4 separate regions of the Homo sapiens genome follow, and all the other regions are linked to region 1. The links come from fine-mapping of genetic effects on gene expression. A gene starts in region 1. Each other region holds a variant in brackets. All regions are shown on one strand. Distances are between the middles of the regions. Region 1 holds the start of ACAD9 (acyl-CoA dehydrogenase family member 9). Region 2 overlaps ACAD9 (acyl-CoA dehydrogenase family member 9). Region 3 overlaps CFAP92 (cilia and flagella associated protein 92 (putative)). Region 4 overlaps H1-8 (H1.8 linker histone).

Evidence for each region. PIP is the estimated chance that this variant, and not a neighbour inherited with it, causes the effect.
Region 2: its variant is the best candidate, but not a certain one, in a credible set for the expression of ACAD9 in whole blood (INTERVAL, PIP 0.57).
Region 3: its variant is the best candidate, but not a certain one, in a credible set for the expression of ACAD9 in whole blood (TOPMed, PIP 0.83).
Region 4: its variant is the best candidate, but not a certain one, in a credible set for the expression of ACAD9 in esophagus muscle (GTEx, PIP 0.66).

What each region holds. Positions count from the first base shown.
Region 1 is chr3:128,876,972-128,881,971 of GRCh38, reverse strand. It overlaps ACAD9 (acyl-CoA dehydrogenase family member 9), which reads right to left and starts at 2,352. Exons shown (of 18, transcript NM_014049.5): 1 at 2,131-2,352. The coding sequence starts at 2,280. It overlaps ACAD9-DT (ACAD9 divergent transcript), which reads left to right and starts at 2,536. Exons shown (of 3, transcript NR_186174.1): 1 at 2,536-2,836. RefSeq lists enhancers at 926-1,777, 2,086-2,165, 1,778-2,630, 2,226-2,775, 2,631-3,482.
Region 2 is chr3:128,912,916-128,918,111 of GRCh38, reverse strand. ACAD9 (acyl-CoA dehydrogenase family member 9) reads right to left here. Exons shown (of 18, transcript NM_014049.5): 18 at 4,998-5,196. CFAP92 (cilia and flagella associated protein 92 (putative)) reads left to right here. Exons shown (of 16, transcript NM_001394090.1): 13 at 1,841-2,005; 14 at 2,549-2,755; 15 at 2,837-2,993. Among named protein-coding and RNA genes, the nearest start is that of ACAD9, 36 kb to the right of the region's middle. The variant A/G (reference allele first, on the strand shown) is at 2,382.
Region 3 is chr3:128,947,359-128,952,554 of GRCh38, reverse strand. The region is part of intron 9 of CFAP92 (cilia and flagella associated protein 92 (putative)); the gene reads left to right. Among named protein-coding and RNA genes, the nearest start is that of CFAP92, 44 kb to the left of the region's middle. The variant A/G (reference allele first, on the strand shown) is at 2,534.
Region 4 is chr3:129,545,135-129,550,330 of GRCh38, reverse strand. H1-8 (H1.8 linker histone) reads right to left here. Exons shown (of 5, transcript NM_153833.3): 2 at 2,651-2,940; 3 at 967-1,330. Among named protein-coding and RNA genes, the nearest start is that of H1-8, 4.6 kb to the right of the region's middle. RefSeq lists a silencer at 3,431-3,725. The variant T/C (reference allele first, on the strand shown) is at 2,064.

The sequences.
Region 1 (5,000 bases):
GGCATCAGGATATTGATGATATTTAAAGCCAGGACACTAAATAAGGTCACCCAGCAGATGGCTGTAGATGAAACGAGACCCAGCCTTAGTAAATTCCAACTTGGCTAGTTGGAAACACTGGTCACTGTTTAGCGGTCAAGGAGCTGAATAAGAACCAGCAATGGACACAGAGAAGTATCAGCCAGTGAAGTATTTAGAACATTCAGAGAATGGCGAGAACAGTGATTCAGAAACCAGAGACGAAAGTGCGTCAACAGGGTGGAAGGATGAACGGTGTCAGATGCCAATGATGGGTCAAGTAGGATGAGGTCTGAGAACAGATCACACAATTTGATAACAGAGAGGTCATTACTGACTTCTATGGCCATTAGGGACAAATGCCTGAATGGTAAGGGCTCAAGATCCAGTAGAGAGAACAGTTAATGATGCAGAGAAAGGAAAGAATTACCCTTGAGTAGGTGAGAAGACCTGGAGTCTAATGAGAGGTTGGTTTTGCCAGGAGCAGACAGTTCACAGTAACAGAATGTAGATAATACCGGCACATATGCAGCGGGAGGGGGTAACTGTGCCTGTGAACTTCTCATCCGACTGCATGGATTTTCCCAGTGGAATGGGAAGCAAAGCTGACAGCTGAGAGTAAAGGCAGGGCAGGGCAGGTAGTGCCAGAGGTTTAAAGATGGAAACAGATCTGAAAGATCTGTGTTCTTTCTTCACCATGCTGCTGGATAGCAGGAAGTCCCAGGATAGAGCACCACACTGCCCCAGGTCCTGGGTAAAAGGTTTTCCAATATGTTCAAGACATAGCTCCGCACTTTCTAGCTGGGCAAACTGCTTTTAGTCTGAGTCTTAGCTTCTTCATCTGTAAAGTTGCTTGCTATAAAGGTATCAGCCTGACAACCTCAGAGGAACGTTCCAAAGAGAAGCCAGGGAATAACTTCTGTGATACAGGATCAGCCAACATTCAGCCAAGTTCAAAGTAGGGCACCTCGACGAAATAGCAAGTATACTGTTGGTTTCCTTAGAAGATAAAATGAAATACAAAGGAAAGAGCAAGAAATGTGTTTATTCCTATTTTGTAGATGAATGCACTGAGGCACAGGGAGGTGCAGCCGTCAGCTCCAAGGTCACAAGACTAAGTGTTGAAGCCAGCTCTCTCTTCTGCTGCACAGTACTCTACAGTTTAAGAAGACTCTCCATGCACCGTTTATCTCACTGGGGCTCTACAACACATCTGTGAAGGAGACACAACACTATCTCCATTTTAAGGCTGAAAGAACTGAGTCTTGGCCGGGCGCGGTGGCTCACCCCTGTAATCCCAGCACTGTGGGAGGCCGAGGTGGGCGGATCACCCGAGGTCAGTTCTAGACCAGCTTGGCCAACATGGTGAAACCCCGTCTCTGCTAAAAATACAAAAAAAAAAAAAGCCGGGCAGGCGCCTGTAATCCCAGCTACTCCGGAGGCTGAGGCAGGAGAATCGCTTGAACCCAGGAGGGAGGTTGCAGTGAGCACTCCAGCCTGGGCGACAAGAGCGCGACTCTGTCTCAAAAAAAACAACTGAGTTTCAAAGTCAACGAGCCAAGACCAAACCCAAGTCTTCCAACTCTAAGAAGACAATGAGTGTTTTATAACCAAACTGTTACTATTGGCTGGGTTGTGCCACCCTTGGGAAGCATCTTGGAGCCAGATTTCTGAGGAACCTCAATGGCAGGGAGAGGCGCTGGGCTCACCTGGGGAAGGAAGCCCCAGGGCGCTGGAAGGTGACTGAGGAGGGACATGGTGTAAGCTGTTTAGGAATCAGAGAGGAAGCCCCGCACATTTCCAGACCAGACCAGCTGAGATGAAGGCTGCTTTGTTAATTACCTAGCCTAGAGTTTTCCGAATTCCCCTGACAAAATTTAGCTGGAACACGTCACCACCACATTTCCAAGGGTCCCCCGTCTTGGAAATGTCTCACCCTTTCTCTGGGAAGGTTTTCCTGGAACTCAGGAATCCGGAGTGTTAACACGCCTCGGCCGCAGGGTGTATCTCTCTGGCAGGTTTGGGGAATCTCACAAAGTTCAACACCAGTCTTGCAGCTGAGGGTGAAAAGCGGGAGCCAGACAGCAAGGGTTCGCCCAGGGCTCGCGTTACCTTCTTGATTTTGCCTAGGAAAAGCTCTTTGGCGAAAGCTCGTACAGGCGGGCTGGTGCGCAGTAGCCGCCGGTTCGCGGTAGAGACCACCAGACCCCGGCAGGCACGAGCCGCAGCCGTGGTGCGCAGGAAGAGCCCGCAGCCGCTCATGCTGCCCGATGTTCCCCAGCCTCAGCCTCAGTCTCCCCTTCTTAGCGCCGCAGGGACACACACACGTCTGATGACGTTACTGGCCCGCGACAACGTGCAGTACTCACTGCGCTTGCGCGGTCCCCCGCAGCAGGGGATGGAGAGGCCAGAAGGGCGGGAAGGCTACCACCTGCCGCGCCCAAGGCCTTAGTCACGTGCACCTGGCTGGCCCGCGCCGCCTGATGACGTCACACGCCTACGCTTCCCGCCGGCCCCACTGCGCTTGCGCGGCCAAAGGAGCTGGCCGGAGGAAATTGTAGGCCCTGGGCCGCGGGCATCTCGGCGGGTATAATCTCTGGCCGTCGTGACGGCGGTGACGGACCTGTTTTTCACATACCAGCGGTTGTTTCCATAAATGCCAGCCATGGGAAATCTCCCTGTGTACAGAAACCTAAAGGCCGGCTCAGCTGCCTCCACTTGTCTCTTTTGTCACTTGTGGCCACGAGGCCGTGGTAAAACTTGAGAAAAGCAAAAGAATGAGGGAAATGCGCTGTATTGGGGTCTCTGCAGGGGCACGGTAAGGGTAAGGGTCCATTTTTAACTGGATGGTGGATTCCTGAGATACTGTTTTGTTCCTAGTTGACATGTATGTTACATATATTTTTTGGAAAAGGAAAAGAAAGTGGGTGTTCAGTCACAGAGCGGTCTGGATACAACTGAGTCACCTCTGTCCTGGGAAACACTAACTTAAAAGGCAGGCGGAGGAAGAGAAACTACAGAGAGAGCTGAGAAGAGATGGGAACTATTGGATGGGATGGGACAGGCCAGGCTGTAACCGCCCAAGGTTACAGCCCGCTGACTAGACAGCTGATTTATCAAGACGGAAATTGCAATAGAGAGAGAGTAATTCACGCAGAGCCGGGTGTGTTGGAAAGGGAGTTTTATTAGCCAAATCGGTCTCCCCAAAAACGGATCGGAATTTTTAAGGATAATTTGGCGAGTAGAAGCTCGGGAAGTGGGAGGTGCATGATTGGTCGGGTTGGAGATGGACTGATAGGGGGCCGAAGTGAGTTTTTCTTGCTGTCTTCTGTTCCTGAATGGGATTGCAGAACTAGTTGAGCCAGATTACCAGTCTGGGTGTTGGTAGGTTTTACAACAGTGATGTTATTCCCAGGAACAATTTGGGGGACGTTCAGACTCTTGCAACCAAAGGCTGTATGGCCTCTAAACTGTAATTTCTAATCTTATAGCTAATTTGTTAGTCCTCCAAAGGCCAACTGGTCCCAGGCAAGAAGAGGTTGTTTTTTGTTGTTGTTGTTGTTGTTTTCCCGGGAAAGGGCTATTTTTGTTTTGAAGTTAAACTATAAACTCATTCCTTCCCAAGGTTAGTTCAGCCTACGCTCAGGAATGAACAAGGACAGCTTGGAGGTTAGAAGCAAGATGGAGTTGGTTAGGTCAGATCTCTTTCATTGTCTCGGTTATAATTTTGCAGTGGCGGTTTCAAGGCCAGGCCATAGGGGCCCACGTAGGAGGCAGGGCATGCCTGGCACCTCACAGCCCAACAGTGCTCTGAACGTGGCACATGGGCCCTCTACAGATCTTCAGCCAGCTCCTCCAGGAAGAATGCCACTCTGCTTTTTCACCCAGACCGGTAATCTGGCTCAACAAGTTTTGCAATCCCACCTAGGAACAGAAGACAGCAAGAAAAACTCACTTCAACCCCCTATCATTCCATCTCCAACCCAACCAGTCAGCACTCCCCACTTCCCGAGCTCCTACTCGCCAAATTATCCTTAAAAACTCCGATCCCTGTTTTGGGGGAGACTTGCTTGTTCCCCGACTGTAGCATTGACCACAGTGTTGGGAAATGCCTCCAGCTTCCATTGTGTCAACTCCTTGAGAAGAAAAAGAAATCCCTTTCATCTCAGCAAGCTAAGCTCAGCACCAAAAAAGATTACATTGCTAACACAACATCAAGAAAAAAGAGCTCAAAACTCTGCAAGGCGTAGAGTCTAAACTGCAAAATATTTGCAGGCATCTTTTCAGATTATTTTACCTTGTCTAAGGTCTCTCACCTGGTTTCTTCATCAGTGGTTGATATTTACTTGCTTAGCATTCAGCTTCACAAGAAGGTATTTGGAAACAACTGCCTTTGTAAATTATCCCCATAGGTAAAACAAAGAAAAATATACATATGTTGCAAAAACTGTTTCAATTTTGAGCTGCTGTACTTTTTTGCCAAACAAATGTAGTCAAATCAGTCAAGTACTCTGTTAATGTGTCAAATGTTTAGTGTACACAGGTCTCCCTAAATCAACCAAATGAGAAATCCAGTGGCACAGAATTTTACAAAACAAAAATTAGAAAAATGTTAAGGCATAGTTTCTAATTGCTCCAATAGAGTATAGCAGAAGAGTTTTGCTGTTTCACTACTATACTAGTTTCTAAATTCAGTTTCCTCATCTGTAAATATGAGTATGATACCCTTTATCTCACAGGACTTTTAAAAGGTTTAAGTAAATCCACATGAAAGCACTTAGCACAGCAAGTGATAAAAATGACAATAGTTACACTTTGATCCTTCCATCTTATATTTAAGTATTAGCCTCTGAGAAATATGATGTTGTTTTAAACAGTTTCCCCTGTTCAGTGTACTAAAAGAAAAACTTCAGCTGAATTAAATTTAAAGGAGCTTAATTGGCCGGGTCGGGTGCAGTGCCTCATACCTGTAATCCCAGCAC
Region 2 (5,196 bases), 36 kb before region 1:
ATATGAAATTGTAGGTTGAAGTTAACTTACCTTGTTGCTGTTGTGGATCTGATCACAAGTGATAGTTTTTCTTTACAGGTGGCCTGCTCTTTTCCTCTAGAAGCTTTGAGAGTTTATCTTTGTATTTGTTTGCTTAAATCCCACTAATAATAGTGTACCCAGGCTTGGAAGTTTTGTCTTTTCTGACATTCATTATTGCTTCAAATTTTCTTGTTCTCACTTTTCCCCTCCTTTTGGGATTTCTGTTATTTGGATGTTATTTCCATCCTCTATACTCAGTTTCTAATTTTATCTTTTTTATACAGGACTGCTTTCTGAAAGCATATCTCAAGTGGATATTCCAGTTCATTCATTCGTTCTACAACAGTATCACTTCTGCAATATATCTCATTCTCTTGTCTTCTATTTCAACTATTTTCATACTCAATACTTTTTCTTTTAGTTTTACTTCTGCTTCATATTGCTATCTTCACTCTTATTTTAAAACAATTTCTTATGTTAAATTCTTAGCCCATCTTTTCCAATAATTTAGCTTCAGTTGTTCAGTCTGTGGCCTTTTTTAAATACTGTATTTACTTCTCCAGCATCTAGTTACTTTTGCTCTGAGTCCAAATTCTCCTGCAGGTGTCACCCCTCAGCAGAGAATCTCAGGCACCCAGAAGAACTACGGAACAGTTTGCTTTCCCTGTAATAAGCATTAGGTCAGAATTTCAACTTCAAATTGTAAGAAAGGAGTAGCATGGAAAGAAGAATCTGTCCCCCTAGGTTGTAATTCACGAATTCTAGGATTTGGAAGGAGCAGGGGACTTCTAGGAATGGCTAACTGAGAAACTCAGATCAACTCCCCCACTAAGGACAACTAGAAAAACTGGACACATCAAGAAATATTGATTGAAGTTCCATGTGGGCCATGACAGGATCCTTGCTCTATGTGGCATCCCTAGTATAATCTTCTCGCAGGTGCTCCAAAGTCTGAGGACCTAGACTTGCCTTTACCTTGCATCCCTTGTTGCCTGGACAGTCTGTTCTTTCATGTGTGTGAATCACAAATTTTGTCCTCCCCTGATTATTTTAAATTCTTGTGCATTAATTCCTCAAAGATTCCAAAGTCAAGCCACTGTAGTTGAGCTAAGGTCACCATCTTGTGCTAAAAAATTTTTTAAAGGTAAAAGATGGTATTTTGCTGAAGGTTACTGTGAAATATGCATATGAAACACTGCACAGTGCCCAACAATTTAGAGTGGTAACTTTCCCAGTTCTCCCTTGTTTTGGGTCCCAGCCACCTTTCCCCCCAGCCTTCTGTGTTGTCTTTTATCTCCTTCCACATTTCTATTTTCATTCACAAAGGAAGCCAACAGACCATCTTATTTCTCTCTGTTCAGGGAAGAGTTCCCATTTCCTTACTGGGCCTGCTGGACAGAATGAGGGTCATAATCCTTATGCACACTTGACAGTTAACCATGGTCAAGGATGGCAGTCCTTGCTGCTTTAGGTTGTAATATCCCCTGTCCACACTCTCCTACTTCTGACCATGTGAGACACAAATTCTGTCTTTATCACAAGGTGGTTGGGAGATGAGTGGCCAGATGATGTGTGTTCCAGTTACAGTGACCTTAGGGGTCTCAATTTTTTGGTCCTCTTAAATTCCATTTTGGATAGTGAGAGGTTGGACTAGTTGGCCCTTTGCCCTGGTTCTATGATGAAATAACAGCACCAGTATTGAAGAATCAATCAATACCTGCACCACAGCTAAGTCCCAGAGATCATCTCACTGCATATGAGCTGGCATGGGGGGTGAGGATGACCTGGTGTGGGTAGTGACTGGTGTCTCTTTCTTCAGAAAAATATCACAGAAGCCTACCAGGTCAGCAAGAAGCCTCCGAAGTCCGTGGCGAAGGTGATTAAAATTTCAGCCCCTGCCAACAAGGCCGTCTACAACTATAGTACCCAGACCATGAATTCTACAGAGCTTGCCAAGAAGGAGCTGTATCAAGAGATAGCCAAGGTGAGAGACCCAGACAGGATGATGGCAGTTGGCAAATCCCATGAGTTCTTTATTCTGACCATGCCTGCCTGGAGGTCAGTGGGGGATCTCAACTATACAGATGAAAGCCAATCAGCTAGGGGAAGTAGACAAGGCTCAGATGTTGAGAGGTGTTCTGTTCCACACTAAATGTGAATCCTCCACACCTGAGGGTAAGCCCAAGATCCTCAATGTAAGCTCAGATGTACATAAAGGAGAACAACTGTAGCATCCTTACCTCTGGGGAACACTTTATGATTGCTGCTTATCAAGGCAGCTACCAACAGAAGGGAAAGCCATGGTTTAGGCTTCCAGCACATATTAACTTTAGGAAACGGCTTCTCCCATCAAAGGGGAC[A/G]ATAATATGTCCCTTACAGGGCTACTGCACAGTCATTTCCTCTCAATGCACTATTTACATTGTCAGGAACTATGATTATGCCCCCAGCTGTTTCTGATTCCTACTTGGAAATAAATCCAAGATTGCTATTAGCCCTTCCACCCCAACCTGTCTGCCCCCATTTCTAGGAGCCAAGAAAGAGATTCACGTACTCACAGGATTACCTCTCAGCCATGGTGGAGCCCCTGGACTTGAAGGAAGAGGAGAAGAAAGCCCAGAAGAAATCCCGCCAGGCCTGGCTCACAGCCAGGGGATTCCAAGTGACAGGTCTTCAGAGCGACACCGAAAGCAGCTTTCAGGATCTCAAGCTGCCACCCATCAAAGAGCTGAATGAGGTCCACAGGGAAGAGCAGGGTCTCAGGTGGGGTGTCCATAGGGACCTTTCTCCTCCTGATTTACTTACTCCCCCAATTTAGGAGTGGAAGGAAAACTCCCTGTTTGCTAATGTACTGGAGCCTGTGTTGGATCGAGACAGGTGGAGCTGGGACAGGCACCACGTGGACTTTGATCTGTACAAGAAACCACCACCTTTCCTCGAGCTGCTCCCTTCGCCCGCACCAAAGCCTGTAACAGGTAACAGGCAAGGGTTTGCCAAGCTGGGCCTCCTGATGCCGTGGGCAGGCAGGAGCTCTGTGCCACTCTGCATCTTCAGTGGTATCCATTTTGTTTACACTATCAACCAAACTTTCTATGCTAAGAAAAGCAAGATGCAGAATGGGTCTGAAAAAAGAGATTGAATGCTGGGCTGGAACTCAGACCAGGATTCTAGCCCCAAGTGTGACATTTGTGTGACTTGAGGCAAATCCCTTCATGCCCTGGGTCTGGTTTCTTGGCTATAAAGTGGGGAAGTTGGAAGACAGGTCTAAAGGCTTCCTGAGCTTCAACACTATTACCCATGACTGATCTCTAGGTGTCCAGCCAAGAGCTGGGGGCAGAGGCTCTGGGCTTCACTGGGACCTTCCAGCGGCAAAGATACTGACAGTTCTTTCTTTGGGGTAAGGCAGAGACAGGAAACGTAGGTCTTGCTGTACCAGTCCCTCCAAGTCCTCTTCCTCTTTATCCCTGTTTATGAAAATTGATCTCAGGATCATCTGGAGGTTAACATAGAACCCAAACTTGGTTAACAGAGCCAGAACCTTTGTTCAGGGAGAAAGAGACATGAGCCTATCTAAAAACAAGGTCTGCCAGAGAAACTTCTCCCAGAAAACTAGGTCAGGTGAACGTGATGGCTTCCTCTCCTCCTCGACTCCTAAGGACAACTGATCACAGCTCCATGGAAGTGCTAACAAGTTTGCTGAAATGTCACTTTCTCCATTTGCCTAGACTTGGCTCCCTCCCTCCCCAGTAGGCCCTAGATCTCCCAGGTTGCCTGAAGAGACCTGCTCTCTGTGGGCATGTCCCAGGCCCACAGTTACTGCTGTGGCTCTCAAGGAGGCTCCAGCTAGGAGAGCTGTCTAGCCTAAGAACACAAGGCTTTTCCTTGGTAAGAAGGCTTCCTAGTGAGCTCCACTGCCAGCCTTCCCAGCAAAAGTCTCCTGGGGGTTTCACTGGTGAAATCACTTAAGAAACACTTGCTGGGGTCTCCTCTTCCCACAACATGTTTAAGAAAAGTTAGCAACTACAGATGAGAGGGAGAGGCTTGAACTGGTCGCTAGGCCTTTTCAACCCAGATGGATGAATGGAGAACTTGCCATTCTCCATTGGCATGTAAGACTGAGGCCTTACACGCCACCAGCCTAGAGTGAAGCCCCCTTCCAGAAGGCTGCACAGAAGGGGGGTGGGTCTGACAGCCCCTCCCCAAACTTCTCCTGTGCAAAGAAACTCTAAGCAGCCTTCTGTCCAGAGGTATGCATGCTTCATTTTGTGCAAAATGCTGCCCTGCTATCACTAACAGAACTTCAGGTTTCACTGAGAGGTTATTTACACGGTCACAATATTTACAAACTTTCCCCATTTTAAAAACTAGTTACCAAACCCCTGGCAGAATGCTCAGGCCAGCCCCACTCAGCCAGCTCAGCTCTCCAAGTTCCCAGTCTCCTCCTTGCCTATTTCCAGCATCACAGTAAATTGGGAATATACTTGGAGGAAAAAGAGTCGGCTGCCTTCTCTGTGCTCAAGGGAGTGTCCACAATAGGCATTTTAGAGCTCCAGACCACCCAAGGACCACATCAAAGCTTAAAGTTCACCACAGTGAGCACGCTGGGACCTGGTGTAATCTTTCAAGTGCCAGCAGAAGGGAGGCTGGAGAAATGCAAAGGCCTGCTGGCCTGGAGATACCATTCATCCTCTCCTCAAGAGTAGAAGCCAGTTCTTGTAAAGAAACTAAAGTCCCTAGGTGGGAACATCATCAGCTGAGACAGCCTCCCCATCATCTCCTGAGAAGGATAAAAACTAAGGGCTCATAACCCCAAGGGATTGTGGCCTGCACTGTGTGTCTGCTCCTTAGCATTCTGGGCCCTCCTTGCAGGGTGAGGACAAAGGGGACCCGAGGCCATCACCAAAGGGTGGTTCTCAGGGTCCTGCTGTCACCCATTAAAGGCTGGTTCTAAGGAACAGTGTGACAAGTACAGCAAAGGCTAACAGTACACAGATTGTGACATTTTATATTCTTTGTTAAATGGTTCCTGGTACATGTTTTAAGTGCCTCTGCTTCTAGTTTAAATGAATGACCCAGACAGAGCTTTCAAGCTGTTTCTTAGAGAATGTGTGGTTGAGCAGAAATGGCTATCCACACCTGACACAGGTCCCCACCCACCTCACACCCTGGAGGCAGCAG
Region 3 (5,196 bases), 70 kb before region 1:
TCCTTTTCAGATAATTCCAAGATCTGTATCATCTCAGTGTTGGTGTCTGTTCATTGGTTTTTCCCATTCAAGTTGATTTTTCTGGTATGACAGGTGATTTTTTAAAAATTCTATCTTGGATATATTGAGTATTACATTATGAGACTGTATCTTATTTGAATCTTACGTTTAAGCTGGGTGCTGGAGAATCACTTGAGCCCAGGAGTTTAAGACCAGCCTGGGCAACACAGTGTGATCCCTTCTTAATTTTTATTTTAATTAGCTAGATGTGGTGGCATACACCTGTAGCCCAGCTATTCAAGAGGCCGGGGTGGGAGGATGGCTTGAACCCAGGAGGCTGAGGCTGCAGTGAGCTATGATTGCACCACTGCACTCCAGCCTGGATGACAGAGACCCTGTCTCTCAAAAAAAAAAAAAAGAAGAAGAAGAAGAAAAGAAAGAAAAAAATTGTATGTGTAGCAGGCCTTCTCCAACACCAAACTGCATGTGTAGCAGGCCTGTGGAGGGGGAGATGAGAGAGTTACCATCTCAATACTGCCAGGTGAGACTCCAGGTTCCCCACTTGGCCACTGTACCCTGTGGGTAGGGATATCTTGTTACTGCTCTTGTGGACTTCACTGATACATGATGGGAGGCTTCATTTCCATTGAGGGTTGGGGAAAGTCCTGGCTCCCCACCAGGTCTTTTCTGACACTACCCCAGTGAGGTAAGGAGCACCAAGTTAAAGTCAGTGAGGGTAGAAGTCCAGGCTTCCCATGTAGCCTTTGTTTCTGGGGTGGGGCATGATTTTTTCCATGGTGTGTGTCTGGGGTAGGGAGGTTATTTGCCTAAAAGTTTGCTGTTCTGCTGAGTTGTCCCTTTCTTCGTCTTTGATATGGAGAAAGCAGACTTTTCTTGGGGTCCTTTCTGCCTACTCTCACTGGTATTTCTGGATACTGCCTTCTCCAGCACTCAGTCCGGAATATATGAGGCAAATAGAAGACCCAGGATCCCATGTTCCCTAAACACCTTTTCTGTACTTTTCAAAGTCTTTGTATTTTTTTTTTATATATACAACCTGCAGAGTTTTAAAGCTGTACTTAGTAGAACTAGAAGTGTGTCTATTCCATCTTGATCCAGAACAGGAACTCTGTAAGTGTATTTTTACCCGTGAAGCTGGGGATTCAGTGGGCCATTTCAACCTAGAAGCCCACATCCTTCAGCACCGGGAAATTGTCTTAAATTATTTCACTGATTATTTCTTCATTTTTTTCCCCCTTTCTTTTTGGGACTCTGTTAGCTAGATGCTGACTCTCCTGGGCTTTCCTTTTTTTTTTTTCTGAGATGGAGTCTCGCTCTGTCACCCAGGCTGGAGTGCAGTGGCACGATCTCAGCTCACTGCAACCTCTGCCTCCCAGATTCAAGCAATTCTCCTGCCTCAGCTTCCTGAACAGCTGGAATTACAGGTGCCTGGCACCACACCCAGCTATCTTCTACTTGTTTTTATTGTTCTTTCTCTCCTAATTGATCCTTTTTCTAGGAAATGTTCAGAAAAGAGTGAACAGAGTGGGCCTGAGACTACCGTCCTTAAAAAGTCCTGTTTGCAGAGTTGACCCAGGCTGGTATATGGGAACTTGCATTTTGAGAGGGTTCCCCGCACTCCCCGTTAAGAATGGCTCACTGTGCCTAAATGGCTTTTGCAAACAGTATCGTTTGTGCTGAATGCCTGCTTTCCCTTTGGGAGGCTGAGATTTTCATACATGCTAGGCAGGGGGTGCTATGTGACCAGGCCTCAGCAAAAGCCCTAGGCAGTGAGTCCCTCATGGGCTTCCCCAGTGGACAGCATTTCACACGTTGCTGCACTGCATCAGGGAGGAGTTGAGCACCCCCTGTGTGTATCCCCTGGGAGAGGACTTCAGCAGCTTGTGCCTGCCCCCTTTGTTGTTTGCTTTGTCTCTTTTGCTGTAATAAATCACAGACACAAGTGCGCTGCACCCATGCTGAGTTCTGTGAGTTCTCCTAGCGAATCACTGAACTTGAGGGTGTCGGGGGCCTGGGACACAGCACTTCCAGCTTGCTTCATGGGCACTGTCGTCACGTGTGTAGTCCGCTTCCTTTAGGTTGATCTTCCTGTTTGTTTCACTCCACCTTCCAGGTCAGACGTTTTCCTCCACTGTCTGTTAATCCCCTGGCCCACTGCTCATGGCTGAGAGAGCACAGACCTAAAAGGCGAGCTTTGGGTGCACGGTGGGCTTCTCAGCTCTGAGCTTCACCATCGGGTGATCTGAGTGGGGCGTTGGTGGGAACCCCTGGGTTCTACAGGGCTTTCCTAGTTCCCTGCCTGGGGGGTCAGGGTCTAGCCTGCTGCATTCTGAATGCCCACAGACAGAAAGGAGCTGGGAATTTGCACTAAGCAGTGAGCATTTGGTCACCTAATCTCCCTATTTGGGAACGGCACAGATGCCCTCAACTATCCCCTATTCCAGAGACCCTCTGTTATTTTTTTTAAAAAACAAATTTTTCTACAGTAAAATTGATGTTTATCTTTTGGTTT[A/G]TAGGTCTATAAATTTAAAATTATGTATAGATCAGGCCAGGTGCAGTGGCTAACACCTGTAATCCCAGCATTTTGGGAGGCTGAGGCAGGTGGATCATTTCAGGTCAGGAGTTTCAGACCAGCCTGGCCAACATGGGGGAAACCCTGTCTCTACTAAAAACACAAAAATCAGCTGAGCGTGGTGGCACGTGCCTGTGATCCCAGCTCCTCAGGAGGCTGAAGCAGGAGAATTGCTTGAGCCTGGGAGGCAGAGGTTGCCGTGAGCCAAGATCGCGCCATTGCACTCCAGCCTGGGCTATGAGAGAGAAACTCTGTCTCAGAAAAATAAAATAAAATCACGTATAGATCAATATTATCACCACTACAGTTAGGATACAGTTCTGTTACCCCAAACCCCTCCTTTGTACTCGCCCTTCATAATCACTTTTGCTTCACACACATAACCTCTGACAGCCACTGATGTGTTCTTTATGACTATAGTTTTAACTCTGGAAGAATGTCATGTAAATGGGGCTCTGTGTTTTGCAGCATCATGCAGCTGTAACCTTTGATTCAGCAGATAACAATGTGCATGGCCTCTCCACTCAAGGTAATGCCTTTCAGATTCATTCAAGTGGCCGCATCTATCGGTAGTTCTTTCCTTTTCATTGCTGAGCAGTATTCCATCACAAGGGTGTACCACAGTTTGTTCGTGCACTCATCAAAGGACATTTAGGTTGCTTCTAGTTTTTGGTAATTATGAATAGAGCTGCTTAAAAACAGTGTACACATGTTTTTATAGGAACATAAGTTTTCAGTTCTTTAGGGTAAATGCCAACAAATGAAATTGCTAGGCTATATGTTAAGTATATGCCTGACTATGAAAAACTGCCCACCATTTTCCAGTGCGGCTGATCACTCTGCATTCTCATCAGCAGTGAACAAGGGTTCTAGTTGCTCCCTACCCTCTCCAGAATGTGGTATTGTCAGTATTTTAAGTTTAGCCAGTCTAAGAAGTTTGTATTGTTATCATATCATGGTTTTAATTTGTAGTTCCCTGACGGATAATGATGTTGAGCATCTTTTGATGTGTTTATTTGCCATTTTACATCCCATTTGGTGAAATTTCTGCTCAAATTTTTGCTCATTTTTCAGTTGGGTTGTTTACTGTCTTACTGCTGAGTTTTGGGAGTTTTAAAAAATATATATTCTAGGCTGGGCACGGTGGCTCACGCCTGTAATCCCAACACTTTGGGAGGCTAAGGCGGGCGGATCACTTGAGGTCAGGAGTTCAAGACCAGCCTGGCCAACATGGTGAAACCCCATCTCTTCTAAAAACACAAAAATTAGCCAGGCCTGGTGGCGCGTGCCTGTAATCCCAGCTACTCAGGAGGCTGAGGCAGGAGAATTGCTTGAACTGGGGAGGTGGTGGTTGCAGTGAGCTGAGATTGAGCCACTGTACTCTAGCCTGGGCAATGGAGCGAGAGCCTGTCTCAGGGAAAAAAAAAAAAAAATTCCGGGATGGGCACGGTGGCTCACGCCTGTTATCCTGGCAATTTGGGAGGCTGAGGCAGGAGGATCACTTGAGCTCAGGAGTTCAAGACCAGCCTGGGCAACATGGTAAAACTCTGTCTCTACAAAAAAAAAAAAAAAAAAAAAAAAAAAGGAAAGAAAAGAAAAATTAGTGGGGCATGGTAGCACACACCTGTAGTCCCAGCTACTAGGGAAGCTGAGGTGGGAGGATCAGCTGAGCCCAGGGAGGTTGGGGCTGCAGTGAGCCATGATTGCACTACTGCACTCCAGCCCGGGGCAACAGAGCAAGACCCTGTCTCACCATAAATATATATATATAATAAATGTGTGTTTACATACACATTCTGGATTTAAGTCTGTTGTTGGATATATTATTTGCTAATATTTTCTCCCAGTCTGTAGTTTGTCTTGTCATTCTCTTTTATTTTTAACCCAATCTGTGACAAGCACATCTTTTCATTCTCTTTACAGTGTCTTTTGCAGAGCAAAAATTTTAATTTTGATGAAGTCCAAATTATACATTTTTTTTCATGTATGCATTGTGTTTCTGTGTCACATCTAAGAACTCTTTGCCTAACCCCTGGTCAGAAGGATTTTTTTTTTCTGTTTTCTTCTCAATGCTTTAATAGTTTTATAGTTAACATTTATATCTTCGATCAATTTTTTTCTTTTTTGAGACAGAATCTCATTTGTTGTCCAGGTTGGTGTGCAGTGGTGCAGTTGTAGCTCGTTGAAACCTCAAACCTCCTGGCCTCAAGCAGTCCTCCTGCGTCAGCCTCCCAAAGTGCTGGGATTAAAGGTGTGAGCCACCACACCCAGCCTTTGATCAATTTTGAATGAATTTTTGTATATGGTGTGAGGTTTACGTTGAAGTTTCTTTCTTTTGCACTTTTGATAAACATAGATTAGCCATACTTGTGTGGATCTGTTTCCGGTTTCTCTTTTCTGATCCGTGGGTCTGTGTCTGTCCTTTCAGCAACACGACACTGTCTTGCTTATAGTAGCTTTGTAGTAAGTCGTAAAAATGGGTGAAGTGGTTCCTCCAACTTTAGTTTTCAACATTGTTTTAGCTCTTCCAGTTTCCTGGCTCTTCTATACAAATTTTAGAATCAGTTTATCAATATCTACAAAAAGTTGTGCTGGGATTTTGA
Region 4 (5,196 bases), 670 kb before region 1:
TCCCAGGCTCAAGCGATCCTCCTGCCTCAGCCTCCCAAGTAGCTGGGGCAACAGGTATGCAACACCATGCCAGCTAATATTTTTATTTTTTGCAGAGATGGGATCCTAGTATCTTGCCCAGATTGGTCTCTAATTCCTGGGCTCAGCACTCACCTGTGTGACAGAGCAAGAGCCTGTCTCTAAAAGAGAGAGAGGAAAAAAAATAATAACTCTAGCCCTAGCTGCTTCCTGTCAGAATCCTTCCACAGCTCTGCATTGTCCTCCAGATAAAGCCCTGATTCCAGCTGCCCTTCACAGCTTCTCCTTGCCAAAACTGTAGGTAGACTGAATTACATGCAGTTCCTCAAATACTCCACCTTCTTTTTGTGTTTTGTTTTGAGACTGAGTGTCACTCTGTCACCCACGCTGGAGTACAGTGGTGCGATCTCGGCTCACTGTAACATCTGCCTCCTGGGTTCAAGTGATTTTCCTGCCTCAGCCACCCAAGTACCTGGGATTATAGGTGTACACCACCATGCCCAGCTAATTTTTGTATTTTTAGCAGAGACGGGGGTTCACCATGTTGACCAGGTTGGTCTCAAACTCCTGACCTCAAGGGATCCGCCCGCCTTGGCCTCCCAAAGTGTTAGGCTTACAGGCATGAGCCACCATGCCCGGCCTAAAAACTCCACCTTCTTTATGCCTCCAGGCCTTTACACAGGCCCTTCCCCTGCTTGAGACACCTTCCTCCACTGCCTCAAGAATGAGTCAGTCTCCTGGTCTCTGCTTCCCCCTTCATAACCCTTGAAATGTCTGCCTCCTTCCCCCAACCAGCTACCATGAGTTCTCTCTCTCCAGGTCAAGCCCAGCACTCAGGACACATGCACTAGATAAGGAAACCCCTCTCCAGAGCTGGCTCCCCGCCCCCGCTCCAGTGGCTGTCAAGACCCCCATCCCCACACCACCCCCTACAAGTCACACAACTACCTTGGCTGCTCCTGCTGCCTTTGGCCTTTGCCTTCCTGCTGAGCCCACCAGCACTGGAAGGTGCCCGCATGGCCTTGTCTGGCTTGGGGGGCACCTTCCTAGCCTCTCCCGACTGTGCCCTGGTGTCCTTGGCCGCGCCGCCTTGCTTGCGAGCCTTCTCTGTGGCTGCGCCTGGCTTGGGAGGAGGCTTCTGCACCTTTGCTGGCCTCTTGGCTGCCTTTTTCACCTTGCCCACGTTGGGAGGGTCCTCCTTGGCCTCACTTGGTTTCTTGGGGCCCTTCCCCTTGGCCTCACCCGCTCTCCTGGGAGCCGTCGCGGGGGCCATCTTCCTGGGCTGGATTTTCTTCTTGTGCTTGGGAACTAACTGGAGAAGGACACGGGGTGGGGCTGAAAGCAGAGCCTCAGGTGCCTCACGCCCCCCACCCCCCGTAAGACTCCGAATGGGAGGCCTCGTTCCAAACAGGGGGGCTCCACAGGCAGTGAGAGGCAGGGAGAAGGCACGAAGCCACTGTCCTTGGAGGCACTGTCTACTATGATTCTAGGATCTCAGGATCTCTCAACCACCTGCCCTAGGCCTGCCACTTTCCCACAGATTGTGCCTCTGGACTCCTCCTCCCCCACTACCCTGAAGCGCTGCCCTGCCTCATGCCCCATGCCCCCACCACCTCGCCCCTTGACGCTCAGCAGAACATGGGCTGAGGTCAGATGGCTCTGGGCTCACAGCTTCCTCCGCCCTCCTCCAGCCGTGTACCACAGCCACGTCTTCTCATCTTTACAGCAGGACAATCACCAAGGCTGTGAGCGGCAGGGAAGGGAGGGCTCCTGGCAAGCTGTTTCTTTCCTGTCCCCCAACCCTCAGGGCTCCCCATCACCAAGACTAGAAACTACCTTCACCCCTCAACTGCCAGCACACCGCATCAGACACCTGACGCCCCTCTGGCTCTTCTCCCTGCTTAGCCGCCTGGTCCTGCTGTGACGCAAGTCCAGGCTCTGACCCACGCCCAGGAGTTCTACCAGGGTGGGACTTTCTGTGATCTGTCACCAGGTAACCACAGGGACCGGCTTGGGGTAGGCTGAGAATGTTCCCCAGCATTCCA[T/C]GGCAACTGTCATGGCAGCTGCTACATGCAGGAAGTTAGGCAAGATGCAGGGGACCCAGCAATGACAAGTCAGGCCGTGGGTCTGGTCCCTGAGGTATTCCTGGTGGCTGATGACAGTCCTGATGTTGGGGTGCAGTTTTGTCCCAGACCTGCCTCAGCTCTGAGTGACCTGGCATGGGTCCCCTTTTGGAGCCTCCTTATAAAGATGAAACTCTCCCCTTTGAAACGGAGGACATGGCTGCTCAGGGAGGTGCCAGCAGAGGGAAAACCCTTTGCTGTGGTGAGGAATTCCAGGAAGGGGCTACGTGCCCAGGACCCAGAAGTTAGCACAGCTGACACAGGCCCTGGGATCCCAAACATGCAACAGTTCACCTGTCCTGGACACCAACAGGGTGACTCTTGCAGTGGGAGCTCAGAGAGGGCACACTACCTGCCTTCCTAGAGGAGAGGGCATCTCGGCTGAGACCACAGGAGGAACAAGGACAGGGGACCGGAGGGGAAAGGCCTTCCAGTAGAGGCCGCAGCACTCACAGAGGCCAGGACCATTGCTCCAACCCTGGGCTATGTCCTCCCTCAGGGGCGCTTACTTTGAAGCTGCCAGTGGCCCCCCTGGCTTTGGAGTTGAGGGGCCTGGCGAGGAGGCCACGGCGCATGCCAGTGGCCAGCGCCTGCTTCAGCAGGTACTTGAAGCGGAGGACGTCCACTGTTGGGTACTTGTGCAGGATGTAGAGCTTGATAGCTGCCACCGACGTGCCCCGGCGCTGCTCCCCAGCCTGCAGCGCCTCCAGCACCATGCGTAGCACCGGGGGGTGGCGGCGTCCCACCGGGAGGCTGCTGTGGCTCGGGCCTCCTGGTGGGACACCGCCGTGGCTCGGGCCTGAGGAGAGATGGCAGGCCATCACCCGGGGCCCAGTCACAACTCAGTGGCAGGCATCAGCTGGCCCGTGGGGGGTGGGTGAGGGTCCAGCAAGGATCAGATGCCCCCCTCTCCCCAAGACACTGACCGCTGGCATGGGAGCTCCCGGATGGTCTCCCCTCAAGGCTCACTGAGTCTCTCTCTCTTTTTTTCTTTGAGACACTGTCTCTCTATGTCCCCAGGCTGGAGTGCAATGGCGTGATCTCAGCTCACTGCAACCTCCACCTCCTGGGTTCAAGCAGTTCTCCTGCCTCAGCCTCCCAAGTAGCTGGGATTACAGGCGCTGCCACCATACCTGGCTGATTTTTGTATTTTTAGTAGAGACAAGGTTTCACCATGTTGGCCAGGCTGGTCTTGAACTCCTGACCTCATGACCCACCCGCCTCGGCCTCCCAAAGTGCTGGGATTACAGGCTTGAGCCACCGTGCCCAGCCAAATCTCTCTTTTTAAAGAATGGAGTATTCCTTTAGAAAAACAATCTAAATTGGGTGAATTTCGTAACTGTGGGTTTACAGGACCTCCGGGGGCTATGTGCACATTCTCAGAGGCACCCAGACTGAGAGACTCTCCAGGGCACACAGCCGGGTTTCTTCCACAAATAAGGGGGGAAAGAAAAAGTGGGAGGGGCACCCTATGGACTAAAGGTCCTTAGGAAACCTCTCAACCAAATGCTCATTCCCAGAGCAGGATTTGAACAATCCAACTGGAAAAAGAAAGGCAACAGATAAATGTGAGCACTGGAAGGAAATATCGGATATTAGGGATAATATTGTTTCAAGTGTGCTAATGGTATTACAATTGCTTTTTAAAAGGCTCTTATCTGTTAAAGGTAAATATTATAAAAGATATTTACAGATGAAATGATACATAAATCCAGCATTTGCTTTGAAATAACCCAGCAGATGAAACAAGAGTGTCCACAAGATGGTGACTGTTGGAGCTGGGTGACGGGTACAGTGGAAGGGAGTTACAGACCATTTGGTAGTCTACTTTTGTATCCATTTGAAAGTTTTTTGTTTTGTTTTATGGAGACAGGGTCTCAATCTGTCACCCAAGCTGGAGTGCAGTGCCACAATCATGGCTCACTGCAGCCTTGACCTCTCCAGCTCAAGTGATCCTCTTGCCTCAGTCTCCGAAGTAGCTGGGACCACAGGCACACACCACCACGCCTGGCTAATGTTTGTATTATTATCATTATTATTATTATTATTATTATTATTATTATTATTGTTATTGTTATTTGACACAGGTCTCACTACATTGCTCAGTTTAGTCTCAAACTCCTGAGTTCAAGCTATCTTCCCACCTCAGTCTCCCAAAGTGCTAGGATTACAAGCATGAGCCACCATGCTCGGCCCTGAAAGTTTTCATAATAAAAAGTTACCAAAAAATTCCACTCTTCGGTATATACCTGAGGGAAATGAAAACGCATGTCCACACAAAAATGTACACATGAATGTTCATAGCAGCACTATTCATGTCGGCCCAAAGATGGAACCAGCCCAAACATCCATGATGAATGATTGACAGATGGATGAACAAAATGTGGTCGCTACCCATCCCGTGGAATATTATCCAGCCATACAAAGGAGTGAAGCCCTGGCTACGACATGGAGGAGCCCTGAAACATGCAAAGTGAAAAAAGGCAGTCAGAAAAAGCCACATACTGTCTGATTCCATTTATATGAAATGTCCAGAATAAGAAGTCCATAGATGCAGAAAGCAGATTGGTGGTTGCCAGGGCTGGGGAGTGGGGGTGGAGAGTGACTGCTAATGGGTACTGGTTTTCTTGAAGTGATGAAAATATTCTAAAATTGATTATAGAGATGGATACACAACTCTGAGTATACCAAAAGCCATTGTACACTTTAAAGGGTGAATTGTATTGTATGGGAATTATTTCTCAATAAGGTGTTATAAAATAGTTGCAAATGAAGTGGGATCAAGGGTGGGGGAAGCATGAGAAGTTGTCAGTCACCATGAAATGCATAAAAGGGATTTAAATATGAAACCGGATTTAAATGTGGTGAATGGAAATGTTGATTTCTGATCAATCTGCAGAATTTAAAGACTTAAATTCTGGGCAATATCGTGAGACCTCGACTCTACGAAAATCTTTAAAAATGAGCAGAGTGTGGTGGTGTGTGCCTATAGGCCTAGCTACTTGGGAGGCTGAGGTGGGAAGATTGCTTGAGCCTGGGAAGTGGAGACTGCAGT